Regions from separate parts of the Homo sapiens genome. Here region 2 is linked to region 1. Evidence: fine-mapped expression QTL. A gene starts in region 1. The other region holds a variant in brackets. All regions are shown on one strand. Distances are between the middles of the regions.

Region 1 (8,761 bases):
TGGGCACGGCAGCTCACGCCTGTAATCCCAACACTGTGGGAGGCCAAGGTGGGTGGATCACTTGAGGTCAGGAGTTATGGCAAAACCCTGTCTCTACTGAAAATACAAATATCAACCAGGCATGGTGGTGGGTGCTGGTAATCCCAGCTACTTGAGAGGCTGAGGCATGAGAATCACTTGAACCTGGGAGGTGGGGGTGGGGGTTGCAGTGAGCTGAGATCGCGCTGCTGCACTCTAGTCTGGGCAACAAGAGGGAAACTCCGTCTCAAAAAAGAAAGAAAGAAAGAAAAGAGGTAGGGGAACCCTTTTTTATAGAGCTTTGCTCAGGAACCAAAAATTCAAGTTTATTTTAAACCTTTCGTCTATGCTTGAGGTATCTGGATTTCTGCTTTTAATATCATATTGTAAAGATTTAAAGAGAAAACATCTCTGTAGACATTGTTAATTTTGTAAATACTGATGTAATTTCTTGTGTTTTTCCATATCATCTACTGAAACTAAATAGCTCAGAATTAAAAAAAAGAGCCCTTTTATTTTGCCAGTCTATAAAGCTTCTGATGACAGGTAGAAGAACCTGGTGGTTAAGGACTTAGGTTTTGAGGTCGGTGGATGTGAGATTGAATCGTGGACAGGTTTTGAGGTCGGTGGATGTGAGATTGAATCGTGGACAAGATCTCAGTTTGTATAAAGGCATGTATATCGGCCTCATTTATACATATTCTTAGAGGGCTGTGAGAAGTAAATGTGTTTATATGTATAGAATTTAGTACCCATGGCCAGGCGCAGTGGCTCATGCCTGTAATCTCAGCAGTTTGGGAGGCCAAGGCGGGTGGATCACTTGAGGTCAGGAGTTCGAGAGCAGCCTGGCCAACATGGTATGAAACCCCGTCTCTACTAAAAATACAAAAATTAGCCAGGCATGGTGGTGCGTGCTTGTCAATCCCAGCTACTCAGGAGGCTGAGGCAGGAGAATTGCTTGAGCCCAGGAGGCAGAGGTTGCAGTGAGCTGAGATTGCGCCACTGCACTCCAGCCTCGGCAGCAGAGCGAGACTCTGTCTCAAAACAAAAACAAACAAACAAAAAAGAATTCAGTACCCACGCTGGCTCAGATGTTGATGGTTACTGTTGTGAATCTGGCTCTACGGGGACCAGTCACTTCATCACTCTTTAAAGACAAGACACTCCTAAATTATCTACCAGGCCATTTTATTTAGAAGGCCTTAACATGATTGATACATTTAATTTAATTTTATTTTTTTGAGACAGAGTGTTGCTCTTGTCCAGGCTAGAGTGCAATGGCACCATCTCAGCTCACTGCAACCTCTGCCTCCTGGGTTCAAACGATTCTCTTGCCTCAGCCTCCCAAGTAGCTGGGATTACAGGTGCCCGCCACCATGCCTGGCTAATTTTTGTATTTTAGTTGAGATGGGGTTTCACCATGTTGGTCAGGCTGGTCTAGAACTCCTGACCTCAAGTGATCCACCCACCTCGGCTTCCCAAATTGCTGAGATTATAGGCATGAGCCACCTCACCTGGCCGATGCATTTAAATGTGGGATTAAATATTCACACCTAGTTCAAGTGTTCACATCTGTACTTGAAACTAAAACTTGTTAACAAGGCATAAATACTGTATTAGTCTGTTTTCATGCTGCTGATAAAGACATACCCGAGACTGGGCAATTTACAAAGGAAAGGTTTATTGGACTTACAGTTCCACATGGCTGGGGAGACCTCACAATCATGGCAGAAGGTAAGGAGGAGCAAGTCACATATCACGTGGATGGCAGCAGGCAGAGAGAGCTGGTACACGGAGACTCCTGTTTTTAAAGCCATCAGATCTCGTGAGACTTATTCACTATCATGAGAACAGCACAGGAAAAACTCATCCCCAAGATTCAATTACCTCCCATTGGGTTCCTCCTAGGACACATGGGGATTGTGGGACTTACAATTCGAGATGAGATTTGGGTGGGGACACAGCCAAACCATATCAAATACTGTTTAATTTGAGTCTAGGAGAAATCTTAAGGCCTTAAACTTAGACTTTATAAAAGCAGAGGCTAGCTCCATCTGGACTGTTTATTCCTTCAGAATATTATGCCTACTTGTATTCCCAATGCCTGACTCAGGGCTCTCCCATAGTCAGTGCTCAATGAATATTGGTAAGGAAAAAAATGGTTCAGTGAGGAGATTTTTGCAGTAATTCAGGTGACTGATGACATTTGACCTTTGTGAATGAATCTCCAATTCTGCAATTGGGTGGATTCTCTGCCTATAGGTACAAGAGGAAGAGGACGAGAAATATTTCCTGTTCTCTCAATAACTTTCCAAATAACATGTCATAAGAAGCCTCCTCATTCTACTCTCCAACATATTAAAAGCCTAGGATTGAGCCAGGTGCAGCGGCTAACGCCTCTAATCCCAGCACTTTGGGAGGCCAAGGCAGGCGAATCTCTTGAGCTCAGGAGTTTGAGACCAGCCTGGGCAACTAAGTGAGACCCCCGCCCTGCCAACCCCCTCTACAAAAAATACAAAAAGTTAGCTGGGCGTGGTGGCATTTGTCAGTAATCCCAGCTACTCAGGAGGCTGAGGTGGGAGAATCGCTTGAGCCTGAGAAGCGGAGGTTGTAGCGAGCTGAGATTGAGATTGTGCCACTGCACTCCAGCCTGGGCGACAGGGCGAGACTCCATCTCAAAAAAAAAAAAAAAAAAAAAAAAAAAGGCATAGGTCCATAGCCCTTTAGAACTGGAAGAAGCCTTCTAGGCCAAGCCCTTCATTTGAACTGAGCCTTGACGGGTATTAGCCGTTAGCCATTTGTGGAAGGTCGCACAGTAGTCAGGACTGGAAGTCTGGTCTTTGAAACCTGTCAGTCCACGGTCATTTCACCTGCCTGTTTGTAAAACAATGTCCTGTTACTTAAGTATACTTTTTAATAAGAAAAACTGGGTGTAAGCAAGAGTATCAGAGTGGTGTTCTGGTGCCAGCAGTTCAACTTCTGCAGCGTGTACTTCACAGGCACAGGTACTTAGGACGTCGCACAGGCACAGGTACTTAGGACGTTGCCCCGCCGAGACTGTCGTTCATATCGCGCCCACCTCCGGGTAACGCCGGTAATGCTGACCTAGCTCCATTATTTGTATTAATTTATTTAGCTAGCAGGGGGAACGGCTGGGTAATGCAGTCTCAGCTGCTGGAGGGGAAGAGGCAAGACTCCGCCGGCGCCCACCATCAGAGCGTGACAACAAGCGGGACCGGAGGTTGGGAAAAAGCACAGGGACAGAATGAATGTGTGCATGGGGGAGCTCTGCTGGGGAGAGGGCAAGAGGCTGTGATCAGATTATCTGAGGTTTCAGAACTTTTATATAAAGACCAAGGAACCAAATGAAAATCCAACTCTTCCAGGGAGCCCTGGAAAGTTCAAAGGACCTCGTTTGAGGGAGCGAGTCCCCGCAGCTCGTGCCCACGTCTCCCTCGCGCTTCCCCCAGGACAGGGGCCGCCCCAACCCGGGCACGCTGAGCCCGGCCGCGCCCCTAGCCCCTTCTCTCTCGGCCTCCTCGTCCCGAAGGGAAGCACAGGCTCGAGCAGCATTCGGGGCTCATCCATCAGCCGCGGAGGCAAAGGGGGAGGAGAGAGGAGGCGGGAGGCGGGAGGCGGGAGGAGGAGTTTCTGGGCGGCCGAGAGCCCCCGGTGGGGCCGGCGGAGGAGCGCCCTTCCCCCCGCGCGCTGATTGCTGTGGCGTCCTGCCCGTCCCCGCCCGCGTGTGTGCGAGGGAGGGCGAGTGCGCCGGGTCGGCCTGATGGGGGTAATCGAGGGTTTCGGGGACGCCGAGCGGCACTTTCCTCTTCCCAGCGAGTGAAGGAGGGCAGTCGGCGGCTCTCGCGCCCCGGCCACTTTCCCTGCGCGATTCCCGGAGCTCCCTGCAGGAGGTGAGAGTCCCCAGCGGGTCCGGATGGCGTAGTTTTGCCGCGGCGCAGCAGCTGCCGGAGCTCGCCGCCGCCGAGCGCTGGGCGGGGAAACTTGCCGCCGCTTTCCTCCAACTTGCTGCGGGTGGATCTCCGCTGGACACACCGCCTCCGAGGTACGTGCCGGCCCAGCCCCGCGGCGCTGCAGCCCGCCCGGGCTGTGGGCTCTGCAGGCTGCGCGGGTGCCCGTCGGCGCGGCGCGGGCTGCCAGTGCCTACTTACCGGCCAGGGTCGCTCCAGCCGCCAGGACCTCCGGCCTTGGGAGGGAGGCGCTGGTGGGGCGGTGTTTACCCTCCGGGGAGCAGGCACCGGTGGCCAGCGGTGCGTGGGCAGCGGCCGCACGGGGCAGGCAGTGCCCCCGGCGATGCGCAGTGCTGGGGAGGAATTCTCCACGCCCGCCCTCACTCTTCCTCTCCGCGGGTCCTTCTGACCCCTGCGGGGCGCGGCGGCCACTTCCCTCCGGGCGCGTGACAGCTTCGGTGGGAATGGTTTGTTGTGGGTTCGCAGTCAATTGCCGTGGCCCAGGCTGTGGCTCCCGGACTCGTGCACGGACGCGGTTTGCGTTCCCCGCTGGCCGCGCCCTCAGGGTGCCTTGCGGGCTGAGCCGCAAGCTGCAGCTCGGCCCCCCCCCGCCCCGGTTTATTTTGAAGGCTCTCTTCTTGTATTCATTTGGTTAGGACAAACTTGGAAATCTTGGACTGTCGCTAGAAGAATCTGCTTGCAGACTTGATCTTATTAGGGCATTTGCCCCGCTTTGCAGAATCGCATAGTGTCAGGAGCCGACGTGTCAAGCATGAATTACCTTGGCAAAGTAGAACTTAGTGGATTTGGTGTCCTCACGAAAAGCTGGAAGAAGAAAACCGTTCCATTTCCCTAGCTGTGAAGTGAGGATAGTAGTACTTGCCCCGTAAAGTTGCTGTGAGCATCTAATGATTTAATGTGTGTGAGGTGCTACAACAGTGCTTGGCACCGAGTAAGCACCGCACGGAGGTTAGCGCTGCTTGCCGCTAGCCCTGCGGTGGCAGGATAGGAGCGGCGAGGGCAGAGGATAGTAGGAGTGACAGGCTGTGCTGGGGAACCAGGCGTATTCTGAGTTTTATGTCCTTCCGAAGAAGTGAGCGGTTTGGGAGAAGTCTCCACAGGTAGTAAAAACACACGTCAAGACCGTTTCTTCTTCCTGAATGCAGAGTGCAAACAGTTACTTCAGTGTGAACTCAGTTGTTTCTTTTGGATAATAATAACAGCTAACGTTTTCTAAGCCCATACTGTGTGCACTTAATCCTCACAGCATCTCTATGGGAAAAGCACTATTAATAACCCTATTTTACAGATAAGACACTAGAGGTTAAGTTACTTGTCCAAGATCATACATAACTTTCTGTTAGTTCTGACTCCAAAGCTACCTTCCTTCCTCAGCGGAGAGCGGCAAGTGCAGGCCGATTTGTGTGTACATAGATTTGTGTGCATAGTCCATGCATCTTCTCCCATCTTTCAGCTTTCTATTTGAGCTGAACGCATATCTCTTGAAACACACATAAGGTATCTGTGATGAATTTAGGCGATTTTACATACTTATGAGGGTGCCCAATTAAAGTTCCTCTGAAACTGGCCCCAAATAATTATAAATAGAACTCTGACTTGTATTAATTAACATGGAAATTTTTTTTTTTTTTTGGTGACAGAGTCTCGCTCTGTCCCCAGGCTGCAGTGCAGTGGTGCGATCTCGGCTCACTGCAACCTCCACCTCCCGGGTTCAAGAGTTTCTCCTGACTCAGCCTCCAGAGTAGCTGGGACTACAGGCGCGCGCTACCACGCCCAGCTAACTTTTGTATTTTTAGTAGAGACGGCGTTTCACCATGTTGGCCAGGATGGTCTCGATTTCTTGACCTCGTGATCCACCTGCCTCGGCCTCCCAAAGTGCTGGGATTACAGGTGTGAGCCACCACGCCTGGCCAACATGGATCTTTATTCTTAATTTCTTTTATTAATTCTCCAGACATTGTTGATCACCATTACTTGGCTTCCTTAGGAAACAGCTTGGGGTTGGCACAGGAGGCAGGGAAATAATTCTTACCCCCTTAAGGGCTATTAACATGAAATTGATTTCATGCCATTGTGTCAGTTAAAGGATGTTGCTCTATTTCTTGCTGTTCTTTGCTTTTGGCTTTATTTCTGCATTGTTTAGTGTTTCAAGGCTTGAGCGTTTTTTTTTTTTGGCCCTTCAGTTTGACATTTGTCAACTTTAATTTTTCCTGTTTTGATGGAATCTGACCGTTACACGGCAGCTTTGCCTAACAACTGTTGATTCAGCTCATGTTTTTAAATATAAAAATCACCAACATAGTTTTGAATCCCAGCACTTCAAAGGCAACCCGTGGGGAGTTCATTGTTATTTTGAATATTAGTCAATAGGGGGAGCATAACACACTGTTGATATCTATAAGGCGCATAAACCCGTTTTTAGAGTATTAAACATATAGTTTGAAAGGGGAGGGCAAAATATCTAGCAAAATAACTAAGTTGCTTTTGGAGTTTATAATGGAGGACTAGATTTAATTTGAACTGATTAAGAATGACCTTGAGGACAGGGCCTGTATGTTGAATATATGTCAAGAACTCCATGGTGGCTGGACAGATAGATAAACACACATATAGTTTTTTTTCAATTTGTTTCCTTAAGTGGTGTGTAGGCCAGGCACAGTGGCTCACACCTGTAATTCCAACACTTTGGGAGGCTGAGGTAGGAGGATCACTTGGCCAAGGAGTTCGAGACCAGCCTGGGTAACATAGTGAGACCCCCATCTCTTTAAAAAGTGAAGTTTGTATGTAAACTAATTTTGTGTGGTTTGAATAATATTTCAACTTACCTGGGAGAAATGGAAATCCAGAGGAATTTGTTGTGAATCCTTTTGTAATGATCCTCATTTGTGTTTTGTAGAAAACTGAATATAATGAATTTGTTCTCAGGGAGGTTGGTGTGTTCACAATCCTGTCATCATCTTTCATTAACATCTTCTAAGTGCAAGACAATAGGGGATCAGTAATCCTAAATAACAGCAGTTCTATTACTGTGAATTCCTCAGAGGCTTACGTTAATATTCAAGTATAGTAGTAGTTCAGATGTATCATATTTGATACTAGTATAAGTGTGATGTGTCTATGAATACTCATACTTGTAAACATAAACAATAAGAATATGCTTGAAAAAATCACACTTGACATTTATCTATTTATTTATTTATTTTTTGAGATGGAGTCTCTCGCTCTGTCGCCCGGGCGGGAGTGCAGTGGTGCAATCTCAGCTCACTGCAAGCTCCACCTCCCAGGTTCACGCCATTCTCCTGCCTCAGCCTCCCCAGCAGCTGTAACTACAGGCACTCGCCACCATGCCCGGCTAATTTTTTTGTATTTTTAGTAGAGACGGGGTTTCACCGTGTTAGCCAGGAAGGTCTCGATCTCCTGACCTTGTGATCCGCCTACCTCAGCCTCCCAAAGTGCTGGGATTACAGGCGTGAGCCACGGTGCCTGGCCAAACTTGACTTTTAAAAAAAGTTTTTGGCTGGGTGTGGTGGCTCACGCCTGTAATCCCAGCATGTTGGGAGGCCGAGGCAGGTGGATCACTTGAGGTCAGGAGTTCGAGACCAGCCTGGCCAACATGGCGAAACCTGATCTCTACAGAAAATACAACAATTTGCTGAGCGTGGTGGTGCACACCTGTAATCACAGCTACTCCAGAGGCTGAGGTGGGAGGATCCCTTGAGCCCAGGAGGTGGAGGTTTCAGTGAGCTGAGATCGTGCCACTGCACGCCAGCCTGGCAGACAGCGAGGTTCTGTCTCAAAAAAAAAAAAAAAAAAGGTTTTCAATTTTTGTCTGTAGTTTTGTAGGCCAGTTTCCTTTCTTGTTTCTTGCGTATTATGTAGTATTTTTTTATTATTTATTTATTTATTTATTTTTGAGACAAAGTTTCGCTCTGTCGTCCAGGCTGGAGTGCAGTGGAGTGATCTTGGCTCACTGCAACCTCCGCCTCCCAGGTTCAAGAGATTCTCCTGCCTCAGCCTCCCGAGTAGCGGGGACCACAGGTGCATGCCACCACGCCCGACTAATTTTTTATATTTTTCGTAGAGACGGGGCTTCACTGTGTTAGCCCCGATGGTCTTGATCTCCTGACCTCATGATCCACCCGCCTCGGCCTCCCAAAGTGCTGGGATTATAGGCGTGAGCGACTGTGCCCGGCCCCATATTATGTAGTATTGATTTACCTTTATTTCATTTACTACGTTAGGGTCCCATGGATCCTATTTTAAAATAACTTTCAAAATTAGTTGAGTCCCTTCTTTTTAAATCTTAGCATTGCGCTTATACTACAGAGTGGCATTTATTTAGGATCTCATTTAGTCTTCTATGCTTTGCTCTAGTTTACTCGAGTAATTCAACAAACACTTATAACCTCCTACTCCCTACTAGGCTATGGTTTCTGGTCTTGGAGCTTGGCAAATTAATTGTCCTTATTCAGTGCTCTGATGACTGGGGGCCAAAATGCCTTCAGGTTGCTTAGGGCTTTCTTACAGAAAGCCTTTCGTTGGCTTGAAGGAAAGTGTTGTTCCATTGTTTTTAAGACTCAAAAGAATTAATTTTTCTCTCTTGCATGCAAACTTGGTTGTGACTTGTAAAAGTCAGGTGAGTGCTTGTTTTTCTGAGGGCAGAATCTGAGCCTAAGAGCCCAGGGAACTCAACTGTCCTTTGAGTTTTAAGAAGGTGATCACTGCTGACTTCTTTAGTATATAAGTGAAGACCA
Region 2 (8,761 bases), 160 kb after region 1:
CCCAGGAGGAAGATGTCATTTCCACCGTTTTACAGAGGGCTTAGTGGAGGGCTAAGTGAACCTGCTCACATCCAAGTTACTAACAAGTGACAAAGCCAGAACACAAACCCAGGCTTCCTGACTCTTGAGTTTAACGCTTGTTGCCTGAGCTGTACTTTAAGTCCTAGCCAAATAAGCATAACTCAAAAAGGGAAGTGGTCCACCTGGATGAACATCCTTGTTTAGTTGAGGCAGAGAGAAGGGGACTTAGAGGAGGGCTGGGCTCAAAAAGTCTAAGTTTGTTTCTGTACTCTCATGATAGGTAGCTAATAACAGAGGTCAAATCCCATTGAGACAAAATGAAAAATTTCTTTTAATAAAGACTCTAAGCCCTGGCCAGCGGGCCGCGTTTCTGAAGCAGAATTCTAGTAGCATGAAAGAATGTTGATTACCCCTTGGAATTTGTTAGAATAAGAAAATTTGTTATAATAACATTTAGAATGTTGGACTGTGTTCTCTCGGCAGTGCATGAGCTTCTTTCTAAGCACAGTAGTCACTTACCCTGAGAGCCACGGGTTGTCACTTAACTGGTTCAGCCTGTGCACACTGGGTAGGGGAAGCCAACTTAAAGGACCTTGTGTCTGGTGCAGTAAAAACTGTTAACTCCTTGGTAACACCTTCGGAACCCCTGAAACTTGACTCCAGCCACCAGTTGAGTATGAGTCACCGGGCCATGCCGTGGAGAGAGGAGCAGTAGGGAAAGGAGGTTCCTTGGTGAGGTCAGTGGACCATAAAGTGATATGTTTATCACCACGGCTCAGACTGCACTGAGCAAGCTTCATCCCCCACTTCCCAGAATCCGACCTGGCTCTACCTTTCTTGTACCCAGCGATCGCAGGCCATGAGGCCTGGTTGCTCTAACCCGAGCAGTTCTCAGAGTGTGGTTTTTGCCCCAGCAGCATCCGCATCACTTGGGGACTTGATGGAAATGCCAGTTCTCAGGCCCAACCCAGACCAACTGAATCAGGAACTCTGGGGGTGGGACCCAGCAGTCAGTGTTTCAATCAGCCCTTTAGGAGATCTGATGCTTGCTGACGTTTGGGAACTGCTCTCATCTATATACCCAGAATGAAAGAATTTAAGAGTTTTGCTCTTATCCCAGCTGGTCTTGCTGCGAGGCTTCAAGCAACATTGACTTACCACCAGAGCCTCAGTTTCCACAGCAGGAAAATGAGGTGTTTGCATTACCCCCCAGGTTCATTCCTGCTCTCAGAGTATATCCTTCTGTGTCTCAAAGTCATTTGTCAATCTTTCCCTAAAATACAAATAAGCATGTGACTCCCCCTGCCCCCAAACTTGCCAGGTTTCTACCCGGGAATTCCCCTTTGTGGTTTCCTTTCTACTTGGCACTCGGTATAAGTTTTGATGCCAGGCATTCGGAAAGTCATTGGGGAGCGGGGGAGAAACCACACACAACAAAAGTGGTCAGCTTATTCAACTTAGTGACAATGGCTTCTGGGACTAGAGCCCTTAATAACATCAACTTTTGAACAATTAGACCTTTCCTAGTGGCTTCACATGAGTGAATATTTTGTTATTTGTCTCAAATCTCACATCATTGTTTGTTAATTCAGGAAACCTATACCATATGCCCACTATGTGCCAGATACAAGCCAGGCACACCTATGAACTGGATATGCCGGCCACAATCCCAGGAGGGCCCTAGTCTCTTGAGTTCCAGACTGTCCTGTCCCTGGCCCATAGACGCTCTTTCTTAATTAAATTTCAACCTTGCCGTTCCAATATCATTTTCCATCCTGTGATGTGGGGGAGGCATCCGCAGGGCTGCAGCTGCACGGTGTGCATACCTCATTTGCTCATCTGGCAAAACCCTCAGCAGATGTGGAGGGAGGCTGCTCTAGCAGCCTGAGTCAGTGGAGCCTTGAGCTTTTCTCTCTGAGGGGGAGGGGAATTAGAGGAGACTGCAGAGTGCAAACCCAATGCTCTCTCGCAACGAGCCGACAAACAGAGGCTTTGGTCCCCTTTGTTCTGGGGTGGTGCTGGGGGTGCTGTGGTGGCCAGAGCCATGATGCCCCAGTGTGTGCTGCGGACCTCAGCACAAGGGAGGTTGCACAAGTGGGGAGGGGGAGGGACAGTATCAACCCAGTCTTGGGACCCCCTGGTTGGATTCCTTACTCCAAAGTGAGACTTCCATGTGGACTTGAACCCTGGCATCCTGTCCTCAAAATGGAAAAGGCAGAAGTCTGTTTTATAGTAGTGCCAGGCCTCTGATTAATTATCCCTTCTGAAAAAAGCATGCTACACCTAGAACTTCCTTGACACTGGTCCCAGCTGTCACACTGCCAGCAGTTTCTTTCAAGTTCTGTTGAAATATTTAAGCCCGTGGATGGAAATCCCATCAGCCGCCGTGCTGTGTAAATGGCATGTGCCGTTGTGGGAGTGTCTTCAGATTCTGGTACTTGCATCACTTTCCCGGGTGGAGGTGGTGAGCAACTCTCAGCACAGTGAGATAATGTTTGCGAAAGCACTTTGTAAACTGTAAAGTGCCATATAAACTTGAGTTGTCTGTGTTCAGATTGTGAGAAAGAGTGAAAGTCTGCCTTCTTTATTTCCCCCAAATTCCTACCTTTCATCTTCAGAGTATAAAGTGCTGTGAGGAATACATATGAGGGAAAGATTAATTCTACATGGGGTGTCGGAGGATTAATTAGGTGGTTGCTTCTCCTGATAGTTGAAATAACAAATATCCAAGGAGGAGTGCATTTGGGGATAGAATGGATTGAATGTTAAATACGCTGACCATGAAATACATAAGTATTGGATTTTTAGATAGGAGATGCTTGGTAGACAGATGACAGTATAAGTCAACTGCTCAGAAAAGGAGTCATGATCTAGGTACAGGTTGAAACCATGGGAGTGATTGAGATCACCTAGAAAAAGAATGAGATAGAAAGGGGATTGAGGAAGGAGCTGAGAAGTTCTTAGCCTTGGTTTATATTGGAATCTACTACGAGCTTTTCAAAAAAGAAAGCTCCCTAGGCCCCGCCTGGGTGTTCTGAATCAGATTCTCTGGGTTGGGGTCTATACAGATTCTGAGCAGAGGAGGAACCAGTGGAAGAGATGTGAAAGATAGGTCAGAGGAAACAGACGAGGACAGGAAGTATCACAGAGAACATGCAAGGAGAAGATTTAGCCAAAAGAGGCCCCTAGTTGGGGGCTAGTCAATAGGCGGTCACTGGTGACCATAACAGGATGCATTTCAGGGCAGTGGTTGCGGACTTCACAGACGAAGAACCATCCTTTGAGCTCGTGGTTCCCTGTGTCTGCCATTTGCTCAGTTTCACTGT[C/T]ACCCTCCTTCCTTTGAATCTGGTTACCGAGTACCTCAGTGGTTTGACAGATTGTCCTGTGCCTCTTTCAGATCAAGTGTTCCCTCCAAAGTGCAACATAGGGAAGAATTTTCTCTCACTCAATTACCTTGCTGAGTACCTTCAACCCAAAGCAGCAGAAGGGTGTGTGATGTCCAGCCAGCCCCAGAATGAGGAAGTACACATCATCGAGCTAATCACCCCCAACTCTAACCCCTACAGGTAAGTGAGTCTAAGTGTGTGAGTGTGACAAGAGATGAAAGTAAAGATCTTCCTTGACTTGAGGCAGGGAGAGGTGTAGCCCGTCCTACACCCTCCCCTACGCAGGAGGGAAGGGAGCCATTGATGCTTCACGCAGGAGGGAAGGTAGCCATTGATGCTTCAGGTGTGCTTCATCAGATGTGTTTCACAGAAGCTTTGAAGAACAGAGTAAAGGCACCAGTGGTATATTTTATATTCTGCATCTGTCCCTAGATCCCAGATATTTCAGATGAATTCCTGAAGCCTGTTCCAAACTTCTGGGTGTTAATTACAGGACACAGTCACTCTTCCTTCATCTTTATCACCTCTGACTAAGGTTATCCCTGATAGGAAAATTACAAAATATGCCCTATTAATATAATTATCATCTTAGTAACCTTCTGTTTTTAATAAAGCTCTGTTTGTGGTGTCCTTAGAGCGCTTAGGCACTCAGAGCTGTTTGCGTTAAATCTGTGTGTGTGTGTGTGTGTGTGTGTGTGTATGCGCATGCACGTGTGTGGTGGAGTGGCTCTTCATGGTGCCATACCAAAGAGCCATTCGATAGAACTTGCCTCTCCCTTGTGTGCTTGGTGTGTGTGTGTGTGTGTGTGTGTGTGTGTGTGTGTGTGTGTGTGTATGCTGGAGTGGCCCTCCATGGTGACATACGAAAGAGCCATTCGATAGCGCTTGCCTCTCCCTTGTGTGCTTGGTGTGTGTGTGTGTGTGTGTGTGTGTGTGTGTGTGTGTGTGTGTATGCTGGAGTGGCCCTTCATGGTGACATACCAAAAAGCCATTCGATAGAACTTGCCTCTCCCTTGTGCGCTTGTTCTCCCTCTCAGCTTCCTACCCCTGGATTGGAAATTCGACCCTCCCTATCAAGAATAATTAGGGAATTAAAGAAAAAGGAGAAAAAGTAGGTTCTTTTCCCACATGAGCCTGCATTTCACCCTCCTTCCTTTGCATCTGGACTAGTGACTTGAAAATTTAAATGTATATTGTAGAGGGATTTCGAGGTGAAAATGCTAATCGGGGTTTGACTTTCAAAGCGTGTAAGCTACAGATCGTTTTGATAAGATTCCACTCTGGCCACTTGAAGAATTTTGTAGAAAGTGAAAAGGGAATGGGAATAGGAGCAGTCTGGTGAATGTGCTTCGACGTCAGGCCTGAGGCTTCATTGGAGTATACCATGCATTTTATGCTTTACAAGTGTGTAAAGCTGAGATGGAAAGAAAGACTGTTCCCTTAAATTCAGAATGACAGGGATGTTATTGTTTAGTAAAAAATTCTCTTTTTTACGAATTCTTAGAAGTTTGGGTTGTGTTCATCAATTTTCCAGTAATCACTTGGTTGACCATCTGTTTTCTTTATTTTAATAACCTTATATCCAGAAGTTTGGGAAAGTAAATGCAGATACGATTCTGTAGCAATTGTTAATGACTTAAGCAAACCTTATATAAATCAAGAAATTCTTTAGCCTTTTGTCTCTTATTTTACTCTGAAGTTTCCTAATTTTTTTTTTTACCACCATGCTTCCCTTATCCCAACACCCCGCCCCCAACTCACCAAACTGCCACCTACTTCAGTTTTGAAGGAATTTGAGCATATTAGCCAAATGGGAATCCTGTACATCGAAGGTGTTGAAGGTTGAAAAAGCAACAATACTGCTTCAAAAGTAAACTCTTCTGGTTCGTTCAAGTCCACTTCAAACAGTGGCTGCATTAAGTAACCACCTCTTTTCCATCAAAGAAGAGAAAAACTTTAGTGACTAATTATCAGCAAGCATATGTTTCTATTGTTATGTAAAACAATTTTGTTATGTGTGCAGTAACAATCTGTTTTGCACATGTCATTGGCCTGGGATCAACTCCAGCTTTTTAATCAACTGGCCAGACACTAGAAACATGAAGACTTGGAAGAGGGGAGATAGTTGCAACTTTCTGGCATGTAGGTCTTAACTTTGCCTTTGTCTTCCATTCACAGTGCTTTCCAGGTGGATATAACAATTGATATAAGACCTTCTCAAGAGGATCTTGAAGTGGTCAAAAATCTCATCCTGATCTTGAAGTGCAAAAAGTCTGTCAACTGGGTGATCAAATCTTTTGATGTTAAGGGAAGCCTGAAAATTATTGTAAGTTGGTGGAGCATGTCTTTTGTTTTGTTTAGATAAATGACAACAATTTAAGCTGTACTTTATAAGTGTTATTTTTAAAGTTCCTGCCTCTTTGGACTCTCTAAGCTCTGTCAATTATTTTTCACTTTGCAAAATAGCATGCTCCTATAAAATAGGTGCGGTTGTTCAAACATGGCCTTGGATTAAGACGGACCCAGGTCTGAGTCCAGGTAATCCCACTGTGACCTTTGGCAAGTCCCCTAACCTCTCTGAACCCCAGCTCCCTCATTTGTGAAATTCCTGAAATACATTAGTATGCTTTCCACTAATAGTAAGTGTAAAGTAATGAACACAATTAAGCCTTCATATTGAGCATCCCACAAGGACCTCAGTGTCATAGTACCGAATATCAGCTTTTATTTTGGAGTTAGGTACTTAGAGAAAGTATGGACTATTAGGCTGACCCCAGCTCACATCATTGACTTTTCTTTTTGAGTTAAATACGAAATATTGGCATGTCTTTTTGCTTGCTTCCAACTCCTAAGTGTGAAACACTGATAGAAGAATCACAGTAAGTGCGAAGTCAGTGAAATGATGCTGGACAAGTCTACTCCAGCTTGTTCCCAAGGCCCTCTATTTAATAGAGATGTACGCACAAGGCTTAGCCCATTGGCATGATGGGCAAACAGCAGCTGGTTTCCTCAAAAGTTGAATGTTGAAACTTGGTAAAGTAAATCTTATCTCAAATATGCTTAGGCAATAACTATTTGACTGAATTATATTGAAAGTTAAAGAAAAATCCTCCTCCCTATTTTTTAAGAAGATAATTATCTCTTTAGTATCTCTTCTATGGGCTCAAATTTTTTTTTTTTTTTTTTTTTTTTTTGGCCAATCTCTCTTTTAGTTCCTGCACTGAGTAAGCTGAAGTGGGTTTTATGTTTTCAGTATTTTGGGAGAGGGATGCCCTTGGTTTTGGTATTATTCATTCATTCATGGCACCTTCCATGTGATACCACAGTGAGCAAAGCCAACAGTTCCCTTGGCAACGTCATGTAAAAGCACTCACCAGAGGCAGCAGGCAAAACCACTAGCACACATATTTTAATTTTAAAGTAATCGTTTCTGGTTCCCGTGGGTTTTTTTTTTTTTTATAACTTTGCTAGGATCCCAGTGAGCCATCATATGTAATGGTGATACATTAATTTGTTGTCAAGCCCAAAGCCTAGCCATGATCTGAAGTCAGAGATGTTTTGATTGCCTTCTCTGGCATGGCATGAGGGGTGTTGGTGACCTAGGCTGTCTGCTGCTTTTGCTGCCTGGCACACCGGCCAAATGTTTTTAATTTCAGAATAACAAAAACAGGAAAGGGAATCATGCTTTGAAAGGCAAAAACATACGGTACATTTTAATTCCCTGCTGGAGTTCTTGTGTAAATATTCTTTCAGCCTTGACCCTTCGATGGCTCTTTCCCTGAGTATGTGTGCCTGGTCCATGGCAGTCCTGGAGTTCACTTTGAATGTCCCCATCTCTCATATGAATCAGAAAGGCTAGAAATGAGATTGCTCATCCCAGTGCAAGATCTGTTTATGTTCCTCTCCTTGGCTGTACGCTTGTTCCAGGCCAATTTTGGACAATGCATGACAACATTACTAAACAATTAGGTAATGTTTCATGATGTTCTTTTTTATTCTCCCAACCAGTTTATGCTTTGTGATTTTCTAATTCCCTGTTTCAGATGTGAATTCTGACTGTGCTGTGAGGGAAAGGTACCTGCTCCCACAAAAGTTTAAATTACTATTTAGAAAGGGGGCAATGGTTTATAGAAACCTTGTTTCTAGTATTTCCTTTAGAGACAGCATAGTGAAATTGAAAGAATCTTGACTTTGTGCCAGACAGGGCTAGATTTAAATCCCATTTCCAATTACTACTCCTAGTAGATGTTGTGCAGTCTGACTGATGAACACGGAGTCTGTTTGGTCACCTGTGAAATGGGTATGATGATAGTACTCACCTTGAGTTTGTGGTTCATTAGCTGAGTTCATTTGTTTGTTCATTTATTTGCCAAATACTTGTTAAGGGCCTATAGGATATTTCACCTAAAGCACTGGACACAGGGCCTGCGCATGTAAGTTCTCAGCTACATGTGTTGCTTCTGTGAGTCTTAGGTTCTCCTTCTCTAACAGGAATGGTAATGCCTATCTCCTTATATTTTGGAAGAGAAATAAGATAATATATGCCTAGCAGAGTGCCTGCCATAAAAAGGGGGTTCATCTTCCTTCCATAAATAACTCTTTCAGAGTGTCTATAGGAACAATTAGGGCACTTCTCTATACAAGGTGAAAAGAAAGAAAGATGTCTACTAAGGGAATTGTAAGGAGTCTGATGGAGTAATTTAAAGAAGAGCACCATTAAATATGGATGTCTTATGCATGTGTGTGTCGGGGGTGGGGCATGGGCAGAATGTGTCCTCCAGATGGCAAAATGGTCAAAAGAGGTGCAAAGAGCCAGGCAGTGGGCAAGAATGGGAACATTGGAGGTGTCTACATTGCCTTGTCCAGCTCTGGCTCTTTTCTCAGGTCCTGTGTGGACCATGCATAATCACTTTTATGGTAGGAAGAACCTCTAAAACATAAAAAAATAGATGGAGGAAACCTGTTAGAGGTTTCCTCTTATATTATTTCATGTGGCCTCAGGACTTCAGGGTTGATGATGGGCAGCTTGTTCTTAGAGAATACATTTTTAAAAATCTCAGTGGGCATATGCACTACGCTCTCTGGCCATTCCCTTCCTTAGTCCTCCCTCCCCTATACCATCAGTCCAGATGTAAATATGGGGGAGTGTGGAGGCACTTAGACTTAACTCCTTATCTTTCATGAAGATATGGCTGGGAAAGATGGTGGTGGTTTTTGGAGACCTCCTTGTACACCTGCATTTGGCGTAGCTCCACTAAAGCTGGAAAAAGCCTAGGGACTTCCAGAAGTACAGTGTGAGAATTTGCTCAAAGCTGGGAACCAACTTGTCTGCCATTGTCCCAAGCCTTGCTGCT

Evidence for each region. PIP is the estimated chance that this variant, and not a neighbour inherited with it, causes the effect. A credible set is the group of variants that fine-mapping cannot tell apart.
Region 2: its variant is the best candidate, but not a certain one, in a credible set for the expression of TGFBR3 in lymphoblastoid cells (TwinsUK, PIP 0.61).

The regions. Positions count from the first base shown.
Region 1 is chr1:91,881,198-91,889,958 of GRCh38, reverse strand. It overlaps TGFBR3 (transforming growth factor beta receptor 3), which reads left to right and starts at 3,808. Exons shown (of 17, transcript NM_003243.5): 1 at 3,808-4,081. RefSeq lists silencers at 3,542-3,681, 4,032-4,111, 4,122-4,331 and enhancers at 3,474-4,236, 4,237-5,000.
Region 2 is chr1:91,724,631-91,733,391 of GRCh38, reverse strand. It overlaps TGFBR3 (transforming growth factor beta receptor 3), which reads left to right. Exons shown (of 17, transcript NM_003243.5): 6 at 3,419-3,587; 7 at 5,586-5,733. Among named protein-coding and RNA genes, the nearest start is that of TGFBR3, 160 kb to the left of the region's middle. RefSeq lists an enhancer at 566-860. The variant C/T (reference allele first, on the strand shown) is at 3,348.